Linked DNA regions of Homo sapiens. The protein of the gene in region 2 purifies or fractionates together with the protein of the main gene of each other region. This does not show direct contact. Each region holds a gene or a part of one and is shown on either strand. Other genes may lie near its edges. The genes, in order: MTPAP, ZNF333 and POGK.

Region 1 (3,652 bases), on a different chromosome or scaffold from region 2:
AGTTCAAGACAGGCCTGACCAACATGGTGAAATCCCATCTCTACTAAAAATACAAAACTAGCCAGGTGTTGTGGCGCATGCCTGTAATCCCAGCTACTTAGGAGGCTGAGGCAGGAGAATCACTTGAACCCAGGAGGCGGAGGCTGCAGTGAGCCAAGATCATGCCACTGCACTCCAGCCTGGGCAATACAGTGAGACTCTGTCTCAAAAAACAAAAACAAAAAAAAAAAAAAAAAAAAAGAAGAGAAAAGAAAAAGAAAAGCTAAAGCTATGAATCATATGACTAACATAAGCCATTAGTCTATATATCTTTTCCTCTTTCAAATGATACCATAAATTTACTTAATTAACTATTACAAAGCCAATGGTCAAAATTCCCTGATGTGAGCAGCAGCTGTTATATTCCCTAACTTATTTCATGCTTGGCATCTCTGAGCTTTGGAGTACAAAAAAGGTGACGAACTTTGTATGCTTATGACTTTTTCCTTCTAGATAGCATTTGCAAAGCTTTCCGAATGAATCCTTTCTCTCTCCTCTCCCCAATCTTTTATTTTAACAAAGAGTCCATGAGCAGGTAAGAGGGAAGGATGAAAAACGGAGAGGTGAAGAAATAAGGAGAAAGTATATCTGGGTTTGTGTTTTATGAAGCCAATCTTGTAAGGTTTGTAATCAAGTAGCCAAATGCTAAACAGAATAAACCCAAACAGAGGGCTATCCCAAGTTATCTCCCACTTGCAAACAAATTTTGTCTAGACTTCTGCCTGAGTTTCTTTTTGAAAAGAAAAAATGTCTTTCATCCCAGCTGCTCAGAAATCCAAATCGTAAGTTCATTTGCTCAAAAAAAAAAAACAAAACAAAACAAAACAAAACAAAAAAACACCTAAATCCTAAGGGCTCAAATTGAGGGAATCACTGAAATCTATCTTTGGGACTTAAGTTTATTCCATAGACACAAATCCAGTTTAAAAACAGCTGTATGTAAATAATAGTTTTCAGGAAACTTTCTGGAATGTATTCCACATCATGAGGGATACAGTATTACACTAAGTGAGGACAGAAGTCCCATGGCATAATAACAAGGCAGATGCTAAAGAGCTGGCTTTTACTATTTGGCATAAAGGGATGACTGATCTTAGTCAAGTCATGTAACTTCTCTGGACATCAACCTCCTTGTTACTACAAATTACTACACAAAAGAAATAAATAACATTTATTAGAGTGTTTTGAAAACAGTTAATTAAATATTAGTACAGTGGAAGACCAGATACTAATAACTAAATAGTAAAACATTATTTACCTGTCGAATATTTATGGAATTTTTATCGAAAGCAAAATTGCCAAAATACTCAAAAAATTCCTTCAGTAGTAATTCTGTAAGAAAATAAAACAAGGACAATCAGAGGAAAGCCTGTTTCAATCCAGAAAGGATCAAGTAAACAGAAAGACACTTACCTAATGTTTCTGTGTTCTGTGAAGGTTTAATTCTACTCAAGTCACGAACAAATGTGCAGTTGTTGCCTTCTATTACACATTTATCTTCTGCATCTTAAACACAAACAAAAAATATTTCACGTGTTTTTTTTTTTTCTTTGCCTGAGATGGAGTCTCACTCTGTCATCCAGGCTGGAGTGTAGCGGCATGATCTCAGCTCAATGCAGCCTCCACCTCCCAGGTTCCAGCAATTCTCCTGCCTCAGCCTCCCGGGTAGCTGGGATTATAGGCACATGCCCCCACGCTCAGCTCATTTTTGTATTTTTAATAGGGATGGGGTTTTACCATGTTGGCCAGGCTGGTCTCGAACTCCTGACCTCAGGTGATCCACCCACCTCATCCTCCCAAAGTGAGGGGATTACAGGCGTGAGCCACCGCACCCAGCCTATTTCACATATTTCAAAGATATTCCCTACCTCAGAATACAAATCTATGATTTAAATAAATTTAAGGCCAGGCGCGGTGGCTCACACCTGTAATCCCAGAACTTTGGAAGGCTGAGGCGGGTAGATCACCTGAGGTCAGGAGTTCGAGACCAGCCTGGCCAATATGGTGAAACCCCATCTCTACTAAAAATACAAAAATTAGCCAGGCATGGTGGCTTGCTCCTGTAATCCTAGCTACTGAAGAGGCTGAGGCACGAGAATCGCTTGAACCCAGGAGGCGGAGGTTGCAATGAGCTGAGATCACATCACTGTTGCCTGGGCAAGAGAGCAAGACTCCATCTCAAAAAACAAAACAAAACAAAACAAAACAAATTTAAGTAAATTTCTACTCTATTCTTTATTTAAATCACAGATTTTATAAATGATTGAATAATTATGACTGAATGATTAAATAACGATTTAATCTATAATTTCTTGTCTATGATTTAATGATGTTAATTTCACTATGGCATAACTAATCTCAAATCTTTTTATCTTCTTTTAATGGAGTTATATTTTAAAAAAAGATTTGAGACTAGTTATGCCACAGTGAAATTAACATTACATTTAATTTAGCATACTAGAATTATTGTCTTTCAACAACCCAATGATTCCTAATCAATTTTTGAGGTAATCAGTTTTCTAACAGTAGATGGAAATGTAGGGAGTTCCCCCATCTTTCACCAAACCAAATTTCAGCACTACCTCTAGTCAATACTTAATTTACATCTCCAATTCCATTCTTATCATCTTCATACACGACACAAACTGAATGCTAACTAAAAAAGCTTCAGGTAATTTCTAAAATGTAGCACTCTAGACTAACTGGAATTCAGTAATTCAGCAAAACAAACTCAATAACAGCACGTTAGACTCAGATATTCACCTTTCCTACTAGTATTTATATCTTAAGAGGTAATCATTTTCATAAATATACAACCACCATGAAATCCCTGGCCCACACTATCTGCAACAGATACTATGCTGTTTTCAAGAGCAAATTCCCACTCTTCAGAAATCTCATCAATGGCTACTTCCTATCTGAAAGCATTTCATAATTCCAAACTGGTTTTCCATCCTTTTTGTTCCATTCACCATTTGACTTATCTGACTGCATTGTGACTGTTTGTATGCTGTCCACTCCTCTGCCCCAGTCAGGAATTACAAAGGCCACTGTCCTATTCATTATTGCCCAACTCCCCACCACCGACCTGCCCCCAATGAGCATCTAGCATATAGCAGGTATATAATCAATAATCTGGATGACTGCTGATATTTTAATTTTTTTTTTGAGATGGAATCTGGCTCTGTCACCCAGGCTGAAGTGCAGTGGCGGCGTGACCTTGGCTCACTGCAACTTCCGCGTCCCGGCTTCAAGTGATTCTCCTGCCCCAGCCTCCTGAGTAGCCGGAACTACAGGCGAACACCACCACACCCGGCTAATTTTTATATTTTTAGTTAGAGACAGGGTTTCACTATATTGGCCAGGCTGGTCTCAAACTCCTGACCTTAAGTGATCCACTCGCCTCGGCCTCCCAAAATGCTAGGATTACAGGCGTGAGCCACCGTGCCCGGCCCTGATATTTGACTTTAAATGCCTATAATCACCAGAGAGATAAATAAGCCTCCTATAAATTTATCTCCCATTTTTTGTGTTTTTTGTCATTTTTTTGTCAAGACCTGGTTACCTGCATAATTTCTCAAAAATTATTCTAGGTTTTAACATTTTAATAGCA
Region 2 (3,652 bases):
GCCTTTGGTATCCGGCTTAGTATAATAGTTTTGTGTTGCAAGTAAGTTAGACTGGGTAGTTTATAAACAATAGAAGTTTATTTGACTCCTGGTTCTGGAGGCTGGGAAGTCTAAGGCTGAGGGGCTGCATCTGGTAAGGGCCTTCTTGCAGCATCATAACATGGTGGACGAGATCATGTTGCAAGAGAACAAGAGAGGCCCAGACTGGTTTTTACAGCAAGGCCACTCTTGAGATAACTAACCCCCTTCTGAAGTAATCACAGGGCAGATTCCTCGTGACCTAATCACCTTTTTTTTTTTTTTTTTTTTTTTTTGGGACAGAGTCTCGCCCTGTCACCCAGGCTGGAGTGCAGTGGTACGATCTCGGCTCACTGCAACCTCTGCGTCCTGGGTTCAAGCGATTCTCCTGCCTGAGTCTCCTGAGTAGCTGGGACTACAGGTGCACACCACCACACCCGGCTAATTTTTGTATTTTTAGTAGAGATGGGGTTTCACTGTGTTGGTCAGGCTGGTCGAGAACTCCTCATCTCGTGGTCCACCCACCTCAGCCTCACAAAATGCTGGGATTACAGGCGTGAGCCATTGTGCCCGGCCACCTAATCACCTTTTAAAGTTCCAGCTCTCAATACTGTTGTATGGGAATTGCTTCCAACCCATGAACTGTGGAGGACACACTTAAACTACAGCAGTATCTGTCTTCTTTCACTTAGCTTTATGTTTTCCAGATCCATCCATGTTGTAGCATGAATCAGAACTTAATTCCTTTTTTAAGGCTGAATAATATACATTGTATGGATAAGCTATATTTTGATTATTTGTTCATCAGTTGATAGACAGTTGGATTGTTTCTACTTTTTAGCTATTGTGAATAATGTTGCTGTGAATGTTTGTGTACAATATTTCTTTTTTCTTTTCTTTTTTTTTTTTTTTTTTTTTTGAGATAGGGTCTTGTTCTGTCGCCCAGGCTGGAGTGCAGTGGTGCAATCATAGGTCACTGCAGCCTCAGCCTTTTGGGCTCAAGCAATCCTCCCACCTCAGTCTCTTGAATAGCTGGGACCACAGGTGCATGCCCTCATGCCTGGCTAATTTTAAATTTTTTTCTAGAGACCATTCTTCCTATGTTGCCCAGGCTGGTCTTGAACTCCTGGGCTTGGGTGATCCTCCCACCTTGGCCTCCCAGAGTGGTGGGATTACAGGCGTGCGCCACCGTGCCTGGCCTTGTGTACAAGATTTATGTAGACATGTACTTAATTCTCTTAGGTATATACTGAGGAGCAGAATTGCTGGCTCATATGGTAATGCTATGCTTAACTTCTTGAGCAACTGTCGTACCACTTTCCAACACAGGTACACCATTTTACATTCCCACCAGCGGAGATGAGAGTTTTGATTTATCCACATTCTCGCCCATACTTGTCATCCAATTCCTCTTTAAATTTAACCTTTTTATGTATGTTCTTTGTCTAGTTCTTTCTTACTCTTTTTTCTAATAACATCTGCTTTCTGGAAATAGTCTCAGTCCTCATAGAATTCTTAGCTAGGAAATTGCCTCTCATTTTCCCCTCATTCCTATGACTGCCAGAGTCCACACATAGCCCTACATACAGATGCTGTCTTCCCTTTCAGGATCTTCCCAAGTCTAAGGTCAGTATTAAAAGCTGGGCTGGGCATGGTGGCTCATGCCTGCAGTCCCGGCACTTTGGGTGGATCACTTCAGGTCAGGAGTTCGAGACCAGCCTGGCCCAACATGGTGAAACCCTGTCTCTACTAAAAATACAAAAATTAGCCTGACATGGTGGTGCGCGCCTGTAATCCCAGCTACTCAGGAGGTTGAGACACTAGAATCACTTGAACCTGGGAGGCGGAGGTTGCAGTGAGCCGAGATCATGCCATTGTACTCCAGCCTGGGCGACAGAGTGAGACTCCGTCTCAAAAAAAAAAAAAAAAAAAAAATTAGCTGGGCATGGTGGTGCATGCCTGTAATCCCAGCTACTTGGGAGGCTGAGGCACAAGAATTGCTTGAACCTGGGAGGTGGAGGTTGCAGTGAGCCAAGATCGCACCACTGCACTCCAGCCTGGGTGACAGAGTGAGACCCTATCTCAAAAATAAAAAGTAAAGAAAACATGTGGCTCATGCCTGTAATCCCAGCACTTTGGGAGGCTGAGGTGGGTGGATCACAAGGTCAGGAGTTCAAGACCAGCCTGGCCAAGATGGTGAAATCCTGTCTCTACTAAAAATACAAAAAAAATTAGCCAGACGTGGTGGCGGGTACCTGTAATCCCAACTACTTGGGAGGCTGAGGCAGAGAATTGCTTGAACTCAGGAGGCAGAGGTTGCAGTGAGCCAAGATTGCGCCACTGCACTCCAGCCTGGGCGAAAGAGCAAGACTCTGTCTCAAAAAAAACAAAAAACAAAAAACAAAAAACATGTATGTGTGTACACACACACAAATATAGATATATATATATATATATATATATATATATATATATACACACATATATATTTTCAATTTTATGCCACTATTTCTTTTTGAAAGGAGTTTATTTTTTCCCAATTCATTTCAGACTGGAAATCTCAACTTGAATATATGTATTCGGTATTAAAATTTGAATATTTATATTCAACATTAAAAGAAAAAGCCTATGTGTGTATAGTGTGTATATATATTCACATATATATGTGAATATATATTTTCAATTAATGTCACTATTTCTTTCTGAAAGGAGTTCATTTTTTCTCCCATTCATTTCAGCCTGGGAATCTCAACTTAAACCCGAAGAGTTGCCTTCTATGCAGGATCTTTTGGAAGAAGCATCCTCCAGGGACATGCAAATGGTAAGATGCACGGGGTTTTCCCCGGCTCCCAGCATGGGAGAAGTTGAGGAACACGTGAGGTGGAAATACAGGACCAGAGCCAGGGAGATGTTAGCAGCATGGGTGTCTCTTGGAAGGGAAACAGTGTCTGAGGGGAGTGCCTGTGACTTCTGAATTTGGGCAAACCCAGACTGTTGCTCAAGACTTTTTTTTTTTTTGAGACAGAGTCTTGTTCTGTCACCCAGGCTGGAGTGCAGTGGCATGATCTCGGCTCATTTCAGCCTCCACCTCCCAGGATCGAGTGATTTTCCTGCTTCAGCCTCCCGAGTAGTTGGGACTGCAGGCGTGCACCACCACGTCTGGCTAATTTTTGTATTTTTTGGTAGAGACAGGGTTTCACTGTGTTGGCCAGGCTGGTCTCGAACTCCTGGCCTCAAGTGATCTGCCTGCCTCAAGATTCTTTTTTTCTAGAAGGTTTCCTGAAGGAAACATTTTAATAAATGTGAGTCAGACATTGAGCGTGCGAAATACGACTTCCTCCTCAGCAACTGTCAGAAAAACCCCTCCTGGTAGAGAAGCCCCATTGTGAATAGGAGGCAGCCCTGTGGTAGAGCTGGCAACACACTCGACGAACTCCAGCTGTCTAAACAAGGCATGGCTTGAAAATGCTGAGAATATGCTCCCGGTGGGGAGGACCCCTGGGCACTGGCACAGATATTGGCGAGCTTTCCACCATCATTCACCTCTTTTTTTGGTTTTTAAAAGACAGGGTCTTGCTCTGCCACACAGGCTGGAATGCAGTGGCATGTTCATGGCTCACTGCAGCCTCAAACT
Region 3 (3,652 bases), on a different chromosome or scaffold from region 2:
CAATCAGCCATCCATCCACAGTTACCAAGCACAGTGCTGGGCGTAAAGAGAGACTCTTTTCCTGATGGAATTTCCAGTCTTGTGAGCAAGGCAGGAAAGTAAACATAAGTAATAGTAAGCACAGTGTGCAGAGTGCAGTGGTGGAAGTCTGCAAGGATGCACCAGGAGCCAAGATGAGGGGATGCCTCATTCAGGCTGAGAACTCCGGGGCTTCCTGGACAAGGCCTAATCTTGAGCAGTGAGCAATTTTGCCCCCACCCCTGGACATTTGGCAACATCTAGAAACACTACCCCCTTTCCCCACCCCTGGATATTTGGCAATATCTGGAAACACTTTTGTTGGTCTGACTTGGTGGGGGTGCGTTGGGGACTGGGAGATCCTCCTGGCATCTAGTGGATAGAAGCCAGGGGAGCTGCTAGATATCTACAGTGCACAGGATGCCCCCCCACCACCACACACACACACACATACACACACAACAAAGAGGTAACTGGCCCAAAATGTCAGTTGTGCTGAGGTTGAGAAACCCTGCTCTAGAGCATTAGAAGAAAAGAATCTGTTTTTAAAATATGTATTTTGGTTATAGAGAATTATGTTAGGGTGATCAGTGAAAGCTTTTCAAGCATAAGAACTATGATAATATATTAGGATAAAATTCCATAGAATTGAAATAGAAATACAATTTTAAGTAGAAAAAATAAAAAATGTGCTTTGAACTGAGTCTTAGTCATTATGGAATCAGCCAAGGGAAGGGAAGGGGGTTGCATTCCAGGCAAGAGGACAGCACAGGCAAAAGCACTGAGGAGAGGAGCTTGGGTGCAGAGTTAGGAGCAGCTCCTGCAGCTGGAACCTGAAACTCATGGCAGGGAGTGGAAGGGGATCAGGTATAGGAGGCCAGGCCAGGGGCCAGAGCCAGCCAGGAGGACATGCAGTGCTACGCCAGCGAGTTTGAGCTTTCTCCTTAGCTCTGTGGAATGAGGCCTTAGCCCATCTTTCTAAGGGAGGCCTCAGGCTCTCTACAGCCACCATGCTAAGGCCTGAGTGGCCTGCTAAGAAAGCAAAGCTTTGGCATCAGACTTTCTAGCTCTGTGACCTTGGACAAGTTACTTAACCACTCTGTTTCCTTACCCATAAAAGTGAGGTAGTGATCCCCATGTCCCTAGTTTAGCGGATTCAGTGAGAGAATATATTTATATGATTGAGTGTCCTATACAGTGCTTGGCCCATAGCAGGCACTCCATCAGTGGATCAGTACAAACTACCCCAACCCCTTCCCCCGAGATCCCTGCGTCTTTGCTGGGTGGCTGCAAGGCTTTAGCGAGGCTGTGCAAGGTGTAAGCACTTTACAACATTTACCCTTTGAGATAGCATTGGAATGCCAACTTCCTGAGCAGAGCAAGGCAGTGCACACAAGCTAGAGGAAGAACACTTATCCAGTGAGCCCTTGATCTTCTGAGGAAAGGGAGGAGGGCAGGGACTGAAGGTCCCTACCTGCAAGGCCAAGGAGGGGTGTCTGGAGGTGGTACACAGACTGCCTGACTTCTCAGTTTTGCCCGGGGCCGGCCCTGTTTACCTTCTGCTATGTTGAGCCAGATAAAAGGCCTCTGTGGAGCGAGGGGAGGCCTGCGCAGCAGGGCCTGGCTGAAGGATCGCTCCATTCTCACAGAGGCTTGCTGTGAGGAGAATGTCTAAGCCACTACACTGTGCCTCTGGAGCATAATGTGGGCTTGTTTGAAGATCCTCCGTGGCTCAGTCATTAATAGGAAGAGATGAATCCTGCACCAGCCCCCAGCTTTCTTCCTGCAGCTTCAGGGCTCCTGGTACCTGATGTTTTTACCAGGCCTAGAATATGTTACCCCCCCTAAGAGTATTGATGGCCCCTCTGAAATGACAGGCATAGACAGTCCTGTTCCCATTTTATCAGCAAAGGGAAAGGGACTATAAATAGGTATGACCTAGATCTGGAACTTCCCAGGGAGAAAAAAAGGCCAAAGAGACAGTTCTTTAAAAGCCTGGGAATTGGGAAAGGAGTAGGGTGGAAAATTCCTGGGCTGACTGGCTTTCCAGGGTGAGGAAGTCTGAGGAAAGCCTGAAGACGAATCCATTTTACCTCCTCATATTTCACACTTAGGGATGTTTGTCCATTCTTACTCCAAAGAGTAGGTTTGGTTTTATGACAGATAAAATTTAATGATTCTTTGAAACAGTTCCAAGTAGAACAAGAGAAGGGAAATCCAGAGATTTGCCTAGATCGTATATTCAAAAGCACATTTTTCAGTGACTACTAGCTACAGGAAGTGTCCTCGGCTTAGGGAAGCAAAAAGGAGTAAGTACAGGTCCTGCTTTCAACAAGCTCAGATTCTAGTGGAGGGAGCAGACAAGTCAACCAAAAGAATTCTGCAGTGTGATGAGTGCCCCGGGAGTGTGGAGCCCAGGACATTTCAGGGACATGTGGGTGTGCTCACAGCGTGGCACAGAGTGGGCTTCCTCGGGAGCAGGGATTTTGGGCTGAGTCCTGGAAGATGGGTGGGTGTCAGCCAGACCAAGAAAGGGGAGGCCCTCCAAGGCCAGGGGAGAATATGGGCCAAGGTGTGGGGGCGTTGGGGAATGGTTGTTCAGGGAACTGCACACAGCTGAGTACAAGTGGAGCACAGAGCTGGGGAGAGTTGAGGGTTAGTCATCAGGGAGGCAGCTGTGCTCGGTATTGCTGGATCCTTGGGGTCAGGCGGTGGTGGCCCCAAAACGCAACCCCACCATTTATTGGCTATGACATTAGCCTGGAAATGAGACCTCTCCAAGCCCATATTCTCCTTGATTAAGTAGGGGCATGGTGGCTTGTGCCTCTAATCCCAGCTACTAGGGAGGCTGAGGCAGGAGAATGGCTTGAACTCAGGAGGCAGAGGTTGCAGTGAGCCAAGATCGTGCCACTGCACTCCAGCCTGGGCAACAGAGCAAGACTCCATCTCAAAAAAAAAAAAAAAAAATAGGCGTATCTACTCCTCCACAGGCCCATTGCAGGGAATAAATGAAGCAGTTACAGGCCCTTTCCTAGTACGTGCTTCCTATGTATGAGGTGCTGTGGAGGTGGGGAGAGAACAAGGGGGCTTCCTTGGGTCAGGGAGGAAAGGCCAATGTATGTAAGTGACTGTTGGCCTGACCCCTGAAGTGGCTGCAGGCTATATAGCATATGGACACTAATTTTCTAAGCTAAGGAAAAACAGTATCATAATCACCCAGACCCAAGATACAGCTTTGGGAAATAGCTTTGAAGGCAAGAATACAAAATAACCAGCCTGAAACAAGCCATCCAGTGCCTTCTTATCACTAAATAGGATGAGCTTTGGAGTAGGATTTTTAATGACTGTAATAAGAAATACAGTTAAAAACAAAAAGAGGAGGTTGGTTTGGGTGGCTTGGCTGCCTTGGGCTACTGAGGAGCCCCCTGGTGCTGGGCCAGGAAGCAGAGGAACAGGGGAGGGATGCAGTCCTTTGGGCTTTCTGCCTACCTGGTCCAGGATCAAAGTGAATGAGTTTGCTCTGGCATCTCATTACATATATTAAGCTGTAATTAGCCCTTCTTTCTTCCTCTTCATGCTCTTGTGGATTGGAAAGGCCAAATAGGGCCCCTTCTCTCAGTGGCTCCTCCCTGGG

The links.
Region 1: the proteins of ZNF333 (region 2) and MTPAP purify together in Homo sapiens (affinity purification with mass spectrometry; one large-scale study listed by BioGRID and IntAct). This does not show direct contact.
Region 3: the proteins of ZNF333 (region 2) and POGK purify together in Homo sapiens (affinity purification with mass spectrometry; one large-scale study listed by BioGRID and IntAct). This does not show direct contact.

What each region holds. Positions count from the first base shown.
Region 1 is NC_000010.11:30,314,666-30,318,317, forward strand, and holds part of MTPAP (poly(A) RNA polymerase, mitochondrial precursor), read right to left. Parts: intron 1,546-3,652; coding exon 1,453-1,545; intron 1,372-1,452; coding exon 1,298-1,371; intron 1-1,297. UniProt on the Homo sapiens protein: Polymerase that creates the 3' poly(A) tail of mitochondrial transcripts. Can use all four nucleotides, but has higher activity with ATP and UTP (in vitro). Plays a role in replication-dependent histone mRNA degradation.
Region 2 is NC_000019.10:14,696,443-14,700,094, forward strand, and holds part of ZNF333 (zinc finger protein 333), read left to right. Parts: intron 1-2,755; exon of another isoform or gene 2,756-2,756; coding exon 2,757-2,839; intron 2,840-3,652. UniProt on the Homo sapiens protein: May be involved in transcriptional regulation.
Region 3 is NC_000001.11:166,842,391-166,846,042, forward strand, and holds part of POGK (pogo transposable element with KRAB domain), read left to right. Parts: intron 1-3,652.